4 separate regions of the Homo sapiens genome follow, and all the other regions are linked to region 1. Evidence: fine-mapped expression QTL. A gene starts in region 1. Each other region holds a variant in brackets. All regions are shown on one strand. Distances are between the middles of the regions.

Region 1 (4,627 bases):
TTCATTTCTAGAAATCCATATAGGGGCCTCATTTCCCTGGGAACACTGGCTGTCTGAGCAGGCAGCCGCAGTGGCTTCAGAGGCTGGTCAAACATCTAATTGGGCTGCCAGTTATTTGTCCATTGTGGTTGAAGACCACTTTACTCTGACATCAAATTAGTTACTTACATTTATCTTAATGAAACAAATTGGCATTCACTTTTTATTTCAGTACCCCGTTTATAGACTCTAAGATGTAATAGCCTGGTTTTCATCAGAAACTACTTTGAGATTATAACTTAAGGACTCAATACATATTTTATGAGTATTTTCTCCATACAGCTCACTGTATTGGGTTGCCTCTGTTGATACTAAGATAAATGAGAAACGGTCTTTCTCCTAACGATGTCAGTAGTAATAGGTGTCTTAAGAGGAAGTGAGAGGATGTTGTTGGGAAAGGCTTCAGAAGGAAGCTGGTTTAATCGGGAGAGGAGAACCATGCCCCACTCATCTCTCTATCTCCCATAGCTACTGGCTATTAAGCACTTTCACATTCTATTACAATGATTAGATATAAATCATCCCCATATCCAGGAGAAAAACTAAGGATCAGAAATTTCCCTCAGTCTGCTCTTGGTTTTCTCATATGTAAAAGAAAGGGAATTAATTAGAAGATCTTTATGGACCCTTTGTACAAAAGAATTTCTTGGGAAAGGAGGCTGTGTGGAAGGTCTCTAGGAATTCAGCATAGAAGTAGCAGGAGGATGGGGAGAAGATTTACCACCATGCAGATTACCTGTTCCATAGCTCCTGGTGGTGGTGAAACCATCGTTACTTTTGTTAAAAATCTGTGGGACTGAAAAGAAAATCAGCTGTTGGCTCAGCCCCAAATGTGACTGCATGATGAATATGACAAACAAGTATCAGCACAGGGGCTGCTAGGGTACTGTGACTATTAGTGGGAAATACTGAACTCTCTGACTCAGTGAAGATGCATAAATGTGGTTTTGTGAATACGTTCCCTTATTCATATTTCTGTCCTGCTGTCTGACATGATAGGAATTGCACCTTCAGATTGCATCATGAGGAAGACACCTCTTAGCTAACTACTGCCTCCCACTCACGTTTCCTTCCTCATTTATTTTCCCTACTGGCTTCTGGGGCTAGAGAAGATTCTAGTTTCTGATTGCAGTAAAATCCTTTCATAGGAGGCTTCTTTAACTAGGCATTTGGATGAATTAATTTATATGTATACAAAGAGAAATTTCTTTCTCAGTTAAATCCTGTTACATTATACTTCAGCTCTTACCATGGCCTTGTCATTGGGTTGAACTGGAGCTGTATTTTAGATTTTGCCAACAATAACAAGCGCTGCCAAGTACTTCAGCTGAGATCACCCAAATAATACTCTACTAGCAAAAGCTTTGCGTGGCGTTCTAACCATCAGAAACTGGTAAGTTCTATATCTCCAAGGTAGACCAAGGAGCCTGGGCCACTGTGTGTGCTGGGGAGTGAGAAAGGCATTGCCAATTGACCTCAGGTTGGGTCAGTTAGTCTCAGGTGGAAAGACTTGGATATGTAACCTTTACACACAACCATGCATTCTGAGAGAAGAGTCAATGAGCAAGACAACATGAAGTCTGGGGCAAGAGGTTGCTCAAATACTCACAATAAAGTAGAAATAAGGTCATTCCAACAACTTTAAGCACTACCACAATAAGCCCAGAGATGATCATGTGCCAGTTCATGATGAAGGAGCTGCAGGGGCCTGTGAAGATTAGAGCACAGCAGCATCAGAATTCGGGTACAAGGCTGCTTTTCACTAGGACATATCCCAGCCTCTCGCTCAGAGTACCCAAAGCAAGGCAGGCTTGGAAGACAGGCATGACATTGACAGGTACCAGGAGGTGACCCAGCGTGGGCCGCGAACACAGAAAGAATCATGTATTGATTGGAGCCTTGGAACTTGGCATACTGCCTCTCCTTCACTCATTCCCTACTCCAGGCCTCAGCCTTGCCCTATTTGTGGCCTCCTAAATTCTGTCTAATAATTAAACCCTCTCCTGTATTTTGAGAACCCTTATCCTTGAAATGACCCTTGTTCCCAAGGACCTTAGTCTGTAGCCTTCACCATACTGACTTAAGTTGTCAGAAGCCTCAGTCTTCCAAATACCAGGGGTAGGTGACAGACAGGACAGGCATCCCTGAAGGTCTTGGCATTGGTCAACAGTCCATGCAGCCAAGACAGACAGACAGACTCACCTCTTTCTCCCTGGAAGGCTAGGCTTGCTTGCAGATGGGGGTCTTCCTGGTGGCCTAATGCTTGGTGTGGCAGGCAGGGGCCCCGTCTCCTGAGAATATGCTCCTTTTGCCCAAGCAACGTTCTTCCTTCTTCACAGTCTCTGCCTTGGTAGCATCCCCAAGAAATACCTCTTCCTGTTCAGTGGGGTTCTTGGCAAAGGGAGCAGGCGGGGCAAAGAAGGGAAGAGACTCTCTAGCCCTAGTGGTGGCAAGAGCAGACTTCCTGCCAGGAGAGTTCTAATGCAGAGGAACATTTTAAGGACAATTTGGAAAACAAAATACCTCAACACAGATTCACCCTTCCTCTGTGTCTAAATCTCCTTGAAATACAGTGGGAAGAGAAATGTAGTAAAATTTTAACAAACATTGAATCTGGATAAAAGGTAGCTGGAAGTTATTTGTACTTTCCTTACAACATTTCTGCAAGTCTGAAATTATGTCAAGTTAAAAATGTTAAGAAATCCAGTTGAAGACACTAATATGAATGAGCAGGTTCTTGCTGTTCCATTTGCTCCATTTGCTGGAGCTCTGCTCATTCCCCTTTATCATGGACTCCTCTCTGGCACCACCTGCTCACCTTCCAGACCTCATGGTGGCTCTTCAGTGTTTCTTGAACATGGCACTCTGCTGGATACAGCAGTGGGCTGGGGTGAACAATACTCAAGTCCTATTGTCAAGGAGTTTTTAATTTCGTGTTAAATTTGAAAATTTGCTTTTATTTTCCCTACTATGAAAACTACTGTGCTCATGACAAAAAAATGGCTGGAAAATATTAACAAGGAAAATTGAGAAAACAAAACCATTTATAACCTTGTACATTTAGTTATAGTCATTGCTAGCACCTCAGGGTGTATCCTTTCGAGATGAGTAGGTAGATAGAAAGATAGATGGATAGATAGATAGATAGACAGAAAAACACTGGTTCACAAAGAACAATGGGAACATATTGTACATATTGTTTTGCAATCTATCTGCTCAAGATTAAGCTAACACTATGTTATATATATCTTTTCATGTCAAAATATAGATTTTGATAATGTATTATTTAATATGTGCATAGCATTCAGGTGTAAAACTATATGATTTATTTATTCAGGTGTAAAAGTATATTATTTCTTTAACAATTGCATAACCACAAATCTTCTAGTAAAGTGTGGTGGACAAGAACAAAGTTTTAAAAATCAGTCCTGCTTTTGATTCCTGGAGCTGACCTTCACTAGCTGAACATCCTTGATTAAGTTACTGAGTCTCTTTACCTTCCATTTCTTTATCTATAAATAGGAGTAATTATAGTAAATACCACATAGGATTGTTCCGAGAAATGAGCAAGATAATGCTTGTAATTTCAATAGCGTGATACTCAGCATCTTAAACATAAATCCTTAGTATTCTAACTATTTTCTAAAACTCTTCTAACTATCTTCCCAATGCACAGTGAACAGCTAAGTGCATGCATCCTTTTACATGTCCTTAATAACTTTCTTGGGCTAAGTTATCAGAAATATAAATGCTGGATCAAAAGACATGTACATTTGGAGGGCTTTGGAACATTAAAGTTGTGTTTTGTTCTACTTGGATAGTCCTCTGTGTTTTTGAAAAATCTCATTGAACCTGATTTATCTGGTCACAAGGTAATTACTTCTAGACCCTAGATTGCTGTCCAGAAGGATCCATATATTTATTGGACAATAAATATGGCCAATTATGCCAGCTATGTTAGGAAGTATGGGAATCAGGAGACTTGGTTATTATTATTTAGAAAGTTTTTAACAGAGACTTTCTGAATAACTTAATAAAATCTATACACTTGGATAGCAAGTGAATCTTTTATAACAAAGAGGTATAAGAGATCTTTCAAATATCATCAAAAGAGAAGAAAATGTCATAGTATAAAAGGATGTCCACAGAAGTTTTGGGGGTAGTACTCTGACTGATGCATTGTGGGACACCTCTGCTCTGCTAGAAAATCTAAAGAAAAATCTAAATTCTTGTTCAAGGCTTCGCACTGCAATGCTTCTCTTAAACTCGACATTATCAGAAACCTTGCTAAAAAAAAGCCAATATCTGCAATGGCAAATGCAACTGAGGGGTTACTAGAGATGAAGTCAATAGCATTGGGGGCCCATGCCCATTGCTTTGGGAAAATAATAAGAAAGGGGCTTCTAGTCACACAATTGTAAGGAAATACCCACACATTGTTTTTTGGGGAAAAAACCATGAGATCACTAATTTTTAATCAGTTATTGCAGACTGGGATAACAAATTCTCTGCTTAGTGAGTCAAATTAGATTTTTTTCACTAGGCTGAGTCCTAAAAATAAAGAAAAAAGTTTTATTGAAGAGTAAAA
Region 2 (4,627 bases), 130 kb before region 1:
AAAGTTTGTGAAGGCTACCTCCTGTGCAAGGTGTTCTGGTTTTCATCCTAAGTGTGATCTGATAATGAGTTTTTGAGTTTTGGTTGTCTGACCTGTTATGGTGTTTGCCATCTAAAAATTTGGGTAGTAGTTGATTTATATTTTGAGGAAACCAACTATTTATTAGCAGAGACTGATAGTAATAGTCACTAAGTGTTACTCAAAGGAAAGTGTTTATAAACACAATTAGTTTGTGTGATTTAGCCATATCATGAGTGAATTGTAGCTAGATGTTGATTCATTCCAAGAAGTGATTAGGGATGCACAGAGTAGTATTAAGGAATGTTATCAATTAAAAGTAACAAATGTGTGTTAGCAATTTAGAAGCTTGAACTGGGAGAAAATAAAGAAAATAGCTAGGAAAATAAAAACAGGAGCGTGCAGGTTAAAAAATGGGACATGGGATGTGAGTTTATTTATGGTTTCAGTCATCTGGACCTTGTTCTGTGAGGCTTAGGAAGAACCTGTCTAGAGCAAGAAGTCATCTGTTTGTCTGAAGATCTGTGAAAGATGTCATGTACTTCTGGAAGATGCCTGGATATGCTTAGCTTGAGATCACCCAAATGTTCAGATTTCCAAGTAGAACAGGATATTTGAAATTCTGAAACAAGACCAAGTTGTTACTTGAAGTTTGACCAATGTGTGCTTTCAGTGGTATTCAGTAATGTTCTTTCCAATGAGCTTCAAAAACAGTCTTTCTTTGAAATCTTTAGTATCTCAGCAATGGATGAGAAAAGTTATGTTGTGGAAAAATAGCTTGAACCTGTTGGTGATATGACTAAATATACCAATTTAGTCTCTTATGAGTAGTTTGGCTAATTTCAATTTTGTCATCCTTTTATCCTTTCTACTTTCCTAGAATATTGAGTGTAATAAGGGCAAGGAAGTTTTTTTTTTTTTGTAAGTGCCAAGAACTTACAAAATTCTTGGGGGGCAGTTCCCATTAAATGTGTTTCCCTGTCACTAGACAGATTACTGTGAATACCCATGTAGGAAACACAAAATCTAAAATCTCTTTGTATTGCAAGAACAATTACTTTTCTAAACACAATCTCTGCAGCGACCTGCCTGGGAAGCCAAACCATTCTAAAACGCTGAAAACATTTTAGAATGGTTGGAATATGGTCAATAACTGCCAGCTTCCCTATTTTTTGTCCCTGTTTCCAATTTGGGATCACCCAGAGAAATCCAGATATACTTCCCAAACCAAACACATAAGATGCCTCGTTTCTAGCTGGCCCAGCTTCTCCATGCCAACAACCTCTAATCAGAGCATACTTGAAGCCTTTCCTGTTTTTTATTGCAAAGCTTTACCCTTTCCTGCCTGCCTTTGAATCTCTGCCGAATGCTAGTGATGGTGGCTGATTGCCTTGCTGCAGCAAGCTCTGAGTAAATTGACTATATTTTTTTCTCATTTGGGTGTTCTTTGTTTATTTATACAGTAGATATAGTTACATCAGAGTCTGTAAGGAATTCCATGATTTTCCTTTAACAATTAGGCTGAATAGTCCTTGAGAGGATTATGGAAGACAAGAAACTCTGTGATACCAATAGTTCCCTTGGGCACCATATTTGGTCATCTTTAAAGAAAACTTTCTTTTTATTTTTGAATAAGGTGGATCACTGGCTTTTGCTATGGACCTTTTCTTGGCAATATCTGCAGGTATCATGATCTTTCATTCCGTATGCCTGGAAGATGCAGATTGATTGGTAATTTCAAATGATGTTAGTAAATCCTCTTTTTTTGGTCTGTTTTCTAGGTCTCATTTAAAGTATTCAGCAATACT[C/G]CATGGTTCTTTTATGCCGAAGTCTTTTGTTCTAATTTACTTTTTCTATTAGATCTACTATATCAGATTTTAGTCCATTGATGAAGACAGGACAAAGTTCCCTTGATCTCATTTTTTACATTAACTCCAGAATAGTGTTGGAAGACCTGTATAAGTCGATTTCTGTAGTCATCAATAGACTCCTTATTTTTCTTGTTTATAGGACGGAATTTTTGTTCAATCTTTGGCACGGGGTAAGTTTTAGTCTTTAAAAGTTATTTACTAACTTGCTTTGCTATATTCAGCCCTTTCCTGTTATTGAGAACTAGGGTTTTTTTAGATTGCCTTCAGCTTCTAGCCAGCCTGCACTATTTATCCATTTTAAAAGACAATGGATTGGCTTATTAAGATGAATCAATTGAAAAGTATCAGTTAGTACATGTCTAATAGAATTCTGAATGCACTAAGTTTAAATTCTACTTGCACACGGCAATTTTCGTGCTTATTAATCTCCTCCTGAGGGGTTCTCTGAGGAAAAGGAAGTCAAGAAGCAGATTGGGAGGGCTAAAAGAGTGGTAGGAAGACAGGGAGGATTAAGTAGGATAAAAGGAAACCGATGTCCTATGGAGAACTGTAGACCCAAGATTGAAATAGATATATATTTATCCTTTGCTAGAGAATCCATTAAGCACACCAATCACATTTCTTTCAGAGATTTCTGCATACTAGCTTGACAAATGCCAACCATTGGATGTTCAAAATCTTACTACTTTTTCAGTATATCTCTAAGATTGTGGTTAACAGCTTCAAATATGGATCCCAATAATCTACTATATCTGGTAGTCATAGTCACATCTATTGTGGAATCTTTTCCCCTTTAGTATTGGCTAGACCTAGTGACTTGTTTCTATTGGATTGACTATAGCAAAAGTGATGGGCTGCTACTCTGAGTTAAGTTACAAAAGACCGTAACTTGCACCTTTTCTCTTGCCTTCTCTCTTGCTTGTTTTGATAAAGCAAACTGCCATGTTGTGAGCTGCCCTTTGTGGAGGCCCACATGGCAAGGAACTGAGAGTGACCTCCAGTCAACAGCCAGTGAGGAACTGAGGCCCTCTGTTCAACAGTACAGGAGAAACTGAATCATGCCAGCAACCATGTGAAGGGGCTTGGAAATAGATACACACTAGTAAAACCTTAAGGCACTGGTCAACACCTTGACTGCAGCTGTTTGAGGGAATCAATCGCCAAAAGACCGAATAAGCCATGCCTGGATTTCTGACCAACAGAAACTGTGAGATGATAAGTGTTTGTTGCTTTAAGCCTCTGAGTTTTGGGGTAACTTGTTGCATAGTAGTAGATTACTAATAGACATACAATTTTGTTTTTTATTTTTTATATTATTTTGTTTTTTATATTTTTTTTTTTTTGAGACGGTGTGCAGTGGCACCATCTGGGCTCACTGCAAGCTCTGCCTCCCGGGTTCACGCCATGTTTTTTTAATTTTTGTGGGTAGATAGTAGGCGTATATATTTATAGGTTACATGAAATATTTTAATACAGGCATGAAATGTGTAATAACCACATCAGGATAAAGAGGATATTCATCACCTCAAGTATTTGTCCTTTGTGTTTCACACAATACAATTATACTCTTTTAGTTATTTTTTAATTTTTTATTTTTTGAGACGGAGTCTCACTCTGTCACCCAGGCTGGAGTGCAGTGGTGTGATCTCGGGTCACTGCAACCTCTGCCTCACATTTTTTAAATCTATTCATCTATTGATGGGCTCTCAGATTGCTTCCAAATCTTGGGTATTGTGAATAGTGCTGCAACCAACACTGGAGTGCAGGCATCTCTTTAATATACAGATTTCCTTTCTTTTGAGTATATACCTAGGAATGGTGGCTCTATTGGTAGTTTTCGGAGGAAGCTTCAGACTGTTCTCCATAGTGGTTGCACTAATTTACATGCCCACCAACAGTCTATGAGGGTTCTCTTTTCTCCATATTCTTGCCAGCATTTGCTATTGCCTGTCTTTTGGGTATCAGCCATTTTAACTGAAACGAGATAATATCTCATTGTAGTTTTGATTTGCATTTCTCTGATGACCAGTGATGTTGAGCACCTTTTCATATGCATTTGCATTTGTATCTTCTTTTGAGAAATGTCTATTCAAATTTTTTGCCCATTTCTTAATGGGATGATGAGATTTTTTTTTCTCTAGATTTGTTCAAGCTCCTTATATGTTCTGGTTATTAATTCCTTGTCAGATGGATAATTTGCAAATATTTTCTCCCATTCTGTGTGTTGTCTCTTCACTTTGTTAATTTTTTTTTTCTGTGCAGAAGCTTTTTGACTTGATGTGATCCCATTTGTCTATTTTTGCTTTTGTTGCCTGTGCTTATGGGGTATTACTCAAGAAATTTTTGCCCAGGCCAATATTCTGGAGAGTTTACCCAATGTTTTCTTGTAGTAGTTTCATAATTTGAGGTCTTAGATTTAAGTGTTTATTCCATTTTTATTTGATTTTTGTATATGGTGAGAAATAGGGGTCTAGTTTTATTTTTCTGCATATAGATATCCAGTTTTCTTGCACCATATTTTGAAGAGACTGTCTTTTCTCCAGTGTATATTCTTGACACCTGTGTTGCAAATGAGTTCACTGTAGGTGTGTGCATTTGTTTCTGGGTTCTATATTCAGTTCCATTGGTCTATGTATCTGTTTTGATGCCAGTACCATGCTGTTTTGGTTACTATAGCTCTGTAGCATAATTGAAGTCAGGTAATATGATTCCTCCATGTTTTTTCTTTTTGCTTAGGA
Region 3 (4,000 bases), 120 kb after region 1:
CATCCTCATGGCTGCTGTGGTTTACTGGGGACCAGAGACAAAAGCTCTGCACGTGCTTTACCCAGCCGGGCATGGGCAAGTGACTAGACTCATTGAGCAAATTTCTTGAAATTTGTCCAGAAAGCACTTAGCAGAGCTCATGGCACAAAGGGTTCTCACAGCTGAGTTTCTTAGTTTTTAGGCTTGTGTGAATTCCATCACAGGAATTTCTTGTGTCATCAGTGAGTGGAAATTACTGGCTTCCCCTTATCATGGAGCTGATGGACTTTGGAGTTACACTTGGGTTCATATCTTGGCTCCAGAAATTGTTCTCTCTAGGAGTTTTGTGACTTTTCACAGATTATGTGATATTTCCAAATCTCAGTTTGCTAAATTGTAAAAGACGGATAATGAGATCTTCTTCATAGAATTATGGAAATAATTGGAAGTCAAAAGCCTAAATCAGAGCCCGTCATGTAGTGTTTGACAGCTGTACGTTCTTCCTGACACCTCTGCTTCCTTCAGTGAACTTGATGTTGGAAACACAGCAGGCGCCAATGCAGCTCAGAGCTGGGGGCGCTGTGCTCATGTCTCTGGGGAGATGGAGAGCGACACAGGCAGGACTGAAGTTAGTCTTAAGATCCAGGGCCCAGTCCCTTGAAGAGAAGTCAGGGAGAAACAGAATCAGGGCTGGGTTTCACCTCGCCAGTTCTTCCTCCTCAGATTTGGAGTCCAGGGACAGGGGCCTGAGCAGCAAGACCCTTTGTATGGAGAGTCAGCAGATCCTCCCAGACGGCTCCCTGGTGCAGCACTACAACGTGCACAACCTGTATGGGTGGTCCCAGACCAGACCCACATACGAGTGAGTCTCCGTCTCCCTTCTCCAGCTGTCACAACCTATAGCGATTGCCAGTGACTGACATAGCTACCCTAGTTTTCCTTTCATTCCATTTCTAAGGATTAAGAAGATTCTCATAACTCTGTAATGATTCTTATTTATTAAACAAATGCTCATTGACATGGAGCCAGGCCCTGTGATTAAAAGTAGGAGGACAGATTTAAATAAGGCATGGTCCCACCAGTGAAAAACTTAATGATCCTAGTGGGAAAGACTCACATGGAGACACCATAATGGTCACACAGGGCAGCCAGTGGAACAATAGCTTTAGTTACAGGAGGTGAAGGGAACACAGAGGACTGGGCATCTCTCCCGTTCATTTCAAAGTGAATCATCTTTGGAGATGTTTGTATTTTTGGCCATTCTTGGTGGAGGGTAACTGGTATTGTACTGAATTAGCACAGTCCTGCTTTGCAAGCTCAATGAATAGTATGAATTCTTCTAAGAGGATCTTATAACCTTCACTGTGTTCCTTCTCAAATATAGAAAACTAAGTATTGAGGAAACCATTAGCAAGACATAGTAATTCCTTAGTATTTTGGGAGTACTCCAGTGAGGCTGCTACAGTGAAGTTCTTTGTAAAGCACTGTGAGAACACGTGACTCATTATCTCCATCATCTGGGATCAGTGGAACTCCTATTACAGCTCAGAGTCCCATGTTCCCTCCAGTCACGCAGCAAACATTGACTAGGCTCAAGGGCTCTGGGAGCAGAAGCTCTATGGCCTTTACTCCCTGGCTGTTGCCTCAGTTCACCTCCTGTTCCCTTCCAAGCAGAGCCGTGCAGGAGGTGACGGGACAGCGAGGGGTCGTCATCACCCGCTCCACATTTCCCTCTTCTGGCCGCTGGGCAGGACATTGGCTGGGAGACAACACGGCCGCATGGGATCAGCTGAAGAAGTCTATCATTGGTGCGTGGGTCCTTCCCCAGGGCCTTTGCCGACAGGGCAGGGAGTTGGGATCCTTAGGGAAGAGGTGAGGAGGCAGATCATGAGAGCCTGGTGTGACACAGCTGTGCTTCTCGTTGCAGGCATGATGGAGTTCAGCCTCTT[T/C]GGCATATCCTATGTGAGTGTCCTTGGGATCCTCCTAAGCACCAAGAAGGTGGGGACATCTTTCAGAAATCATCAGCAGGCTCCTTTTATTTCCTCTTGTTTCAGACGGGAGCAGATATCTGTGGGTTCTTTCAAGACGCTGAGTACGAGATGTGTGTTCGCTGGATGCAGCTGGGGGCCTTTTACCCCTTCTCAAGAAACCACAATACCATTGGGACCAGGGTAGGACAGTGGCTTCTACCTCCACTGTTTTATGTCACTTGAAAGACAGTCTCCATTTCTGTGCTAAAAGTAATGCAGTCTCTATTTCCTGGGATATCTTTAAAAAAAGGTGTTTTTTTTTGTTTTGTTTTGTTTTGTTTTTTTTTTTGAAACAGGGATTTACTCTGTTGGCCAGGCTGAATCGTGCAGTGTCCCAATCATGGCTGACTGCAGCCTCCACCTCTGGGGCTAAAGCGATTGTCCCACGTCAGCCTTCTGAATAGCTGGGATAAAGGCACATCCCAGCGTGGCTACCTAATTTTTGATTTTTTGTAGAAATGGGATCTTGCCATATTTCACAGGATGGTCTCGAACTCCTGGGCTCAAGCGATCCACTCGACAGCCTCCAAAAGTGCTGGGATTACAGGCGTGAGCCACTGCACCCTTAAAAATTGTGAAGACCTGGTGTCTCAATGAACCATATTCCTCATTGTGCTTTAGATTATTATTTTTTTCCTGTATTTCAGGCAGAATTTTACCAAATGTTCCAAAAAGAATGTCTTACAGTGAAATTTTATCAGCTGTCTTAGGAGAGCTTTGGTGACTCTTTCCGGTCTATTAAGAATATTCTCTGGGCCTCATGTATAGTTTTCTTTTGTTTAGCTGTGAGTGATCTTCAATTGGAGTATGCTTTTAGTGACCTTCTTAAATCCCCTAGAAATTCCAGGGCGAGCTCCCAACACTGTTCTCTTTCTCCTTTAGAGACAAGACCCTGTGTCCTGGGATGCTGCTTTTGTGAATATTTCCAGAAATGTCCTGCAGACCAGATACACCCTGTTGCCATATCTGTATACCTTGATGCAAAAGGCCCACACGGAGGGCGTCACTGTTGTGCGGCCTCTGCTCCATGAGTGAGTGTCCAGCAGGGATCCCGATGACTAATGGATGACTTATTGCATTCTATGTGGTAGCAGTTGATATACACAACGCTTCCAAATTAAAGACATGATGGCCTTTTGACATGAGCTCTTCAGACACAAAGTATACCTGATTACTGTCTTTAGCACAGTGTTATACATACCGTAGGTCATAAAAAAAGGGTATTTATTGAATGACGAAAATTGAAATGATGCAGTACAGCATAGAATAGTTTCATTCTAATTTGGTTGTGCAAAGGCCTATCTTATGTAGCAGTTTTGTTATATGGACCCAGGTCACAAAAGAAGGATTTCAGCAAGAGAATTGAGGGACGAGGGCCATCCTCACATTTAAAATGTGCCATGGTTAAGAAATGAGGTAATATTTTACAGGAGAGAACACATCTACATCCCAGCATTTCTGAAGTTTGAGGCACATCCCATGGGGAAAGCAGAGGCTGGGTGCTCCTGATGAAGCTAGGCCTAGGAACAAAGCAAGGATGGCTCAGGGGCAGCTGTATTTCCGACTTGGATCTGAACTTGAGGAGCTTCTTCAGAGTGTCGGGCTGGGGCTCTGTTGGGCTCTGTTGGGCACCTTCATTTCCCTTTCCAGGTTTGTGTCAGACCAGGTGACATGGGACATAGACAGTCAGTTCCTGCTGGGCCCAGCCTTCCTGGTCAGCCCTGTCCTGGAGCGCGTGAGTATGGAGGCCTCCGATGAGGGGAGGATCCCAGCTGTGAGGCTTGGGGAAAAGGACGAGGAGAAGAGGCCTGAGCTGGTGGGGGTCCTGAGACATGGTTTCTTATTCTACCTGTGTCTCTTCCTCTCTTTCTGAGCTGAAGTCCATCACTTAGGTGTTCTTGGCACTCAGCTCCTTCATCTTTAAAATGAGCCTAACAATTCTGGTTCGTAGGATGATCAAGAAGAAAACACCTCATGGAATAGTCAATGAC
Region 4 (4,627 bases), 200 kb before region 1:
CTGTTCTTTTGTTTATTTTTAGCTAACTCCCTCTGGAACAGCATTTTAAGAGCAACGTCTGATATTTTTGGATAAAAATGCTAACTCTGTGATGTTGATTCATAAAATGTTCCCAAGAATTGGTATATTAAAATTATTCTGGGCCAGGTGCGGTGCTCATGCCTGTAATCCCAGCACTTTGGGAGGCCAAGGCGGGCAGATCACTTGAGGTCAGGAGTTCAAGACCAGCCTGGCCAACATGGTGAAACCCTGTCTCTATTAAAAATACAAAAGTTAGCCAGGCATGGTGGTGCACACCTATAATCCCAGCTACTGGAGAGGCTGAGGCAGGAGAATCGCTTGAACCCAGGAGGCAGAGGTTGCAGTAAGCTGAGATTGCACCACTTCACTCCAGCCTGGGTGACAGAGACTCCATCTCCAAAGGAAAAACAAAAAGTTATTCTGTATTGTAATTTAAAAATAAAATTTCTTCTATTTGAATTTTTAAAGTTAAAAACGTAAGTAAATCCTGTCATTGCTAACAGGGCCACATATGGACTCTTACTCTTTCCTCTAGACCCCCAGAGTGTAGAATGTGATACACTTTTGTCCTTTTCTCTGAGGATGTGCTGCCTAGTGTCGTGGAATCTGCCTGACCATTGCAAGCATCCAATTTTGTGACCAGTTCTTTTGCAGGAAATTGTTTCTGAGAAGACTGGAAGACAAGAAATATCCCACCTCTTCTAACAAGATCTGAATTGTTCGAAAAGCAGCCAGTGCCTAACTTGTAGCTCCACTTATGCCAACTGTATATATACCTCTCGTGAGCATAGCAAGTGATTTAATATTTTGAAAAGATGGCTAAAATCCTTTTAATGAACAGCACTAAAGTTATATGTATTAGAGGAGAATTATTGAATGAGATGGAGAAAGAGTTCTGAAATTAATATTTACATTTTGGCTTTTTTACAGATAATATTATATTTCTGAGTGACCAGACGAAAGAGAAGGAGTAGAAAGGATGATTCTTCTTTGGCCATCATTTGGTACAGTCTCATTTCCAAGTCATGTATAATCTTTATGGCTTCCAAGGACAAGAATTAAAATACTCTTTTACGTAAAATGAGTAATAATCTTTTTTCTGACTGTCGTTCTCGCTCTCCTTTTTGTGGTATAATCTTGGTAGCTACTATCTGTTATGGCATTTACTAGTTGTTTATTCTTCTAAGGGTGGTTTCTATGTACAGGTATACAAAATAGTAAACTTTCAGGCTCATTTGTGTTATGGCAAAGGGATAAATATGCTTTGGGAAGGTCTCCTGGTTTTTGTATACACTTTTATTACAATATTGATTTGTCCAATCAGTGAATTTACTGAGCATCACTGTATGTGAGACATTTATCCCATATTTGTAAATATTGATTTTCTTAACGTTTTGCTCTGTAGACATGAAGGCAAGGACTGAATCTTCTGTTTGCCTGCACTTTAAACCATGCTTTACATAGAATAGCCACTCAGTAAGCATTGATAGATGAATCATCCCAATGGGATTCTAAGCTTCAGCTCAAATTGAAGGGAGTTGCTGAGCAGTGGTTAGTGTCTAACCTAAACATCTTTAAGACTAACCTACCTTCTTCATATCTTTTGTTTTTGGACAGTTTCATTAGTAGCATTGATGAAACATAGTTTACCAGCAATAAGGACCTGAATAATTAGAGATGAAATCGTTCATCTCCAGGTGATGCCACAGGAGCTGTAGTTCTGTTCTTTCTCTGCCCCTGTTATCTGTGGGGAAAAGAAAGAGAGATCAGACTGTTACAGTGTCTATGTAGAAAGAAGTAGACATGAGAGACTCCATTTTGTTCTGTACTAAGAAAAATTCTTTTGCCTTGAGATGCTGTTAATCTGTAACCCTACCCCCAACCCTGTGCTCGTAGAAACAAGTGCTGTGTGCTGTGTCGACTCAAGGTTTAATGGATTTAGGGCTATGTAGGATGTGCTTTGTTAAACAAATGCTTGAAGGCAGAATGCTTGTTAAAAGTCATCACCACTCCTTAATCTCAAGTACCAAGAGACACAAAACACTGCAGAAGGCCGCAGGGACCTCTCCCTAGGAAAGCCAGGTATTGTCCAAGGTTTCTCCCCATGTGATAGTCTGAAATATGGCCTCGTGGGAAGGGAAAGACCTGACCATCCCCCAGCCCGCCACCTGTAAAGGGTCTGTGCTGAGGAGGATTAGTAAAAGAAGAAGGCCTCTTTGCAGTTGAGATAAGAGGAAGGCATCTGTCTCCTGCTCGTCCCTGGGCAATGGAATGTCTCAGTGTAAAACCTGATTGTATATTCCATCTACTGAGATAGGAGAAAACCGCCTTAGGGCTGGAGGTGAGACATGCTGGCGGCAATACTGCTCTTTAAGGCATTGAGGTGTTTACATATGTGCACATCAAAAGCACAGCACCTTTTTCTTTACCTTGTTTATGATGCAGAGACATTTGTTCACATGTTTTGCTGCTGACCCTCTCTCCACTATTACCCTGTTGTCCTGCCACATCCCCCTCTCCGAGATGGTAGAGGTAATGATCAATAAATACTGAGGGAACTCGGAGACCAGTGCTGGCACGGGTCCTCCGTATGCTGAGCGCTGGTCCCCTGGGCCCACTTTT[C/G]TTTCTCTGTACTTTGTCTCTGTGTCTCTTTGTTTTCTCAAGTCTCTCGTTCCACCTGACGAGAAACAGCCACAGGTGTGGAGGGGCAGGCCACCCCTTCATCTGGCGCCCAACCTGGGGCTAAGGGATCTATTCTATTTATTTGCGCTGACTGAATTTTTTCTTCCACTAATTTAATTTCTTTTGTTGCCTCTGGGGTTAATATTCTTTTAAGTCTGGTTCTCCTCTTAAGATAGAGAGCAAATTTGACATGGCATAAGTAGGAATGCCTAAAGTTGGCCGAATCCAATTAATATCGCCTAGCAATTTTTGAAAATCATTTAATGTTTTTAATGTCTTTTTTTATTTCTATTTTTTGTGGCTTAATTTTTCTATTTTCTATCTGCATCCCTACATAATGAAAAGGAGTAGAGGTTTGAATCTTATCAGATACTATTGCCAGTCCTGCGTTGGCAACCTCTGCTTACAGAAATGTGTAAGTCAATTAATTTGTCTTGTTTCTGTAGCACATAAAATATCATCAGCATAATGAATGATATAACAGTCTGAAAACTTGTCTCTAACTGGTTGAAGAGCTCGACCTATGAAAGTCTGACAAATAGTTGGACTATTAAGCATTCCCTGAGGTAACACTTTCCACTGAAACCTGGTGGCTGGTTATTATTTATGGCTGGTATAGTAAAGGCAAATTTTTCACAATCCTGCTCCGCCAGAGGAATGGTAAAAACGTAGTCCTTCAGATCAATTATAATTAAAGGCCCGGCGTTTGGGATCATGGCCGGAGAGGGCAACCCGGTTTGGATAGGTCGCATGGGTTGAATTACGGCATTTATGGCCCTTAAGTCCGTTAACATACGCCATCTGCTGGATCTTTTCTGAATTACAAACACAGGAGAATTCCAAGGCGAGAATGAAGGCTCAATATGTCCCTTTTCTAATTGTTCATTTGCTAATAAATGTAAAGCCTCCAGTTTTTATTTTGGTAGCGGCCACTGATTTACCAATACGGGTTTTTCTGTTTTCCAACTTAATGGAATGGTAAGTTTAGGAGGCTCTGCAGTGGCCACCCCTAAAAAGGATACCCTATTCCTTTTCTTTCTTGATTTCTTTCAGTCTCAATTGGGACTTTAATGCCATTTTCATTTTTTCCTAGTCCTTTTCCTGGTATATATCCCATCTTAGTCATGATTTTTTGACTCGTGGGGCTGTATAATGGAGCGGGCATAGTGATTTCCGCACCCCATTGTTGTAATAAATCTCGACCCCGCATATTAACAGGAATTGAAGTAATCATTGGCTGAACAGTACTTTCTTGATTATCTGGCCCTAAACAGTGTAAAATCATAGTACTTTGATGCACTTCTGAGGCTGTTCCTATGCCGAGAAGTCCTGTAACAGCCTTTTGTTTAGGCCAATTTTTTGGCCACTGATTTAAAGCAATGATAGAGACATCTGCTCTAGTGTCTACTAACCCTTCAAACTGTTTTCCTTGAATAATGGCCTTACACACAGGTCTGCTGTCTGAGACCTGACTTGCCCAATATGCGGCCTTTCCTGTCGGATCAGTGCTTCCAAACCCTCCTGTTTTTATCTGTTTCCAACCATAATATAAGGCAGGAGTAATAATTGAGCAATCCTGTCTCCTGGACTGGCACTCCAAGGAATTGAAGAGCTAATAACCAATTGAATTTCGCCTTTATAGTCTGAATCAACCATACCACTATGAATTTGAACTCCCTTTAGATTTAGACTTGAGCTTCCTAAGATTAGTCCTACAGTCCCTTCAGGCAGTGGGCCATATATCCCTGTGGGGTTTTTTTGTGGGGGTTCCCCTGGAAGCAGAGAGACTGCTTGTATAGTACATAAATCTACTGCTGCACTGCCACTTGTGGTGGGGGACAATTGTTGTATTGTGGTAACTGGCTCATTCCCTGAGGCACTTGGGACAGTGGGGGTTGTTGTCCCTGAAATCCCTGAGGAGCAA

What was found. PIP is the estimated chance that this variant, and not a neighbour inherited with it, causes the effect.
Region 2: its variant is fine-mapped to the expression of CLEC5A in whole blood (TOPMed, PIP above 0.99).
Region 3: its variant is fine-mapped to the expression of CLEC5A in whole blood (INTERVAL, PIP 0.96).
Region 4: its variant is fine-mapped to the expression of CLEC5A in whole blood (TOPMed, PIP above 0.99).

What each region holds. Positions count from the first base shown.
Region 1 is chr7:141,944,566-141,949,192 of GRCh38, forward strand. It overlaps CLEC5A (C-type lectin domain containing 5A), which reads right to left and starts at 2,409. Exons shown (of 7, transcript NM_013252.3): 1 at 2,242-2,409; 2 at 1,649-1,747; 3 at 776-835. The coding sequence starts at 1,727. RefSeq lists an enhancer at 891-2,090.
Region 2 is chr7:141,814,792-141,819,418 of GRCh38, forward strand. No RefSeq gene overlaps it. Among named protein-coding and RNA genes, the nearest start is that of PRSS37, 24 kb to the right of the region's middle. The variant C/G (reference allele first, on the strand shown) is at 1,827.
Region 3 is chr7:142,063,682-142,067,681 of GRCh38, forward strand. MGAM (maltase-glucoamylase) reads left to right here. Exons shown (of 71, transcript NM_001365693.1): 37 at 703-841; 38 at 1,654-1,787; 39 at 1,907-1,941; 40 at 2,034-2,150; 41 at 2,892-3,040; 42 at 3,660-3,744. Among named protein-coding and RNA genes, the nearest start is that of MGAM2, 46 kb to the right of the region's middle. The variant T/C (reference allele first, on the strand shown) is at 1,929.
Region 4 is chr7:141,749,360-141,753,986 of GRCh38, forward strand. It overlaps SSBP1 (single stranded DNA binding protein 1), which reads left to right. Exons shown (of 7, transcript NM_003143.3): 7 at 952-1,129. The coding sequence ends at 995. Among named protein-coding and RNA genes, the nearest start is that of TAS2R3, 12 kb to the right of the region's middle. The variant C/G (reference allele first, on the strand shown) is at 2,644.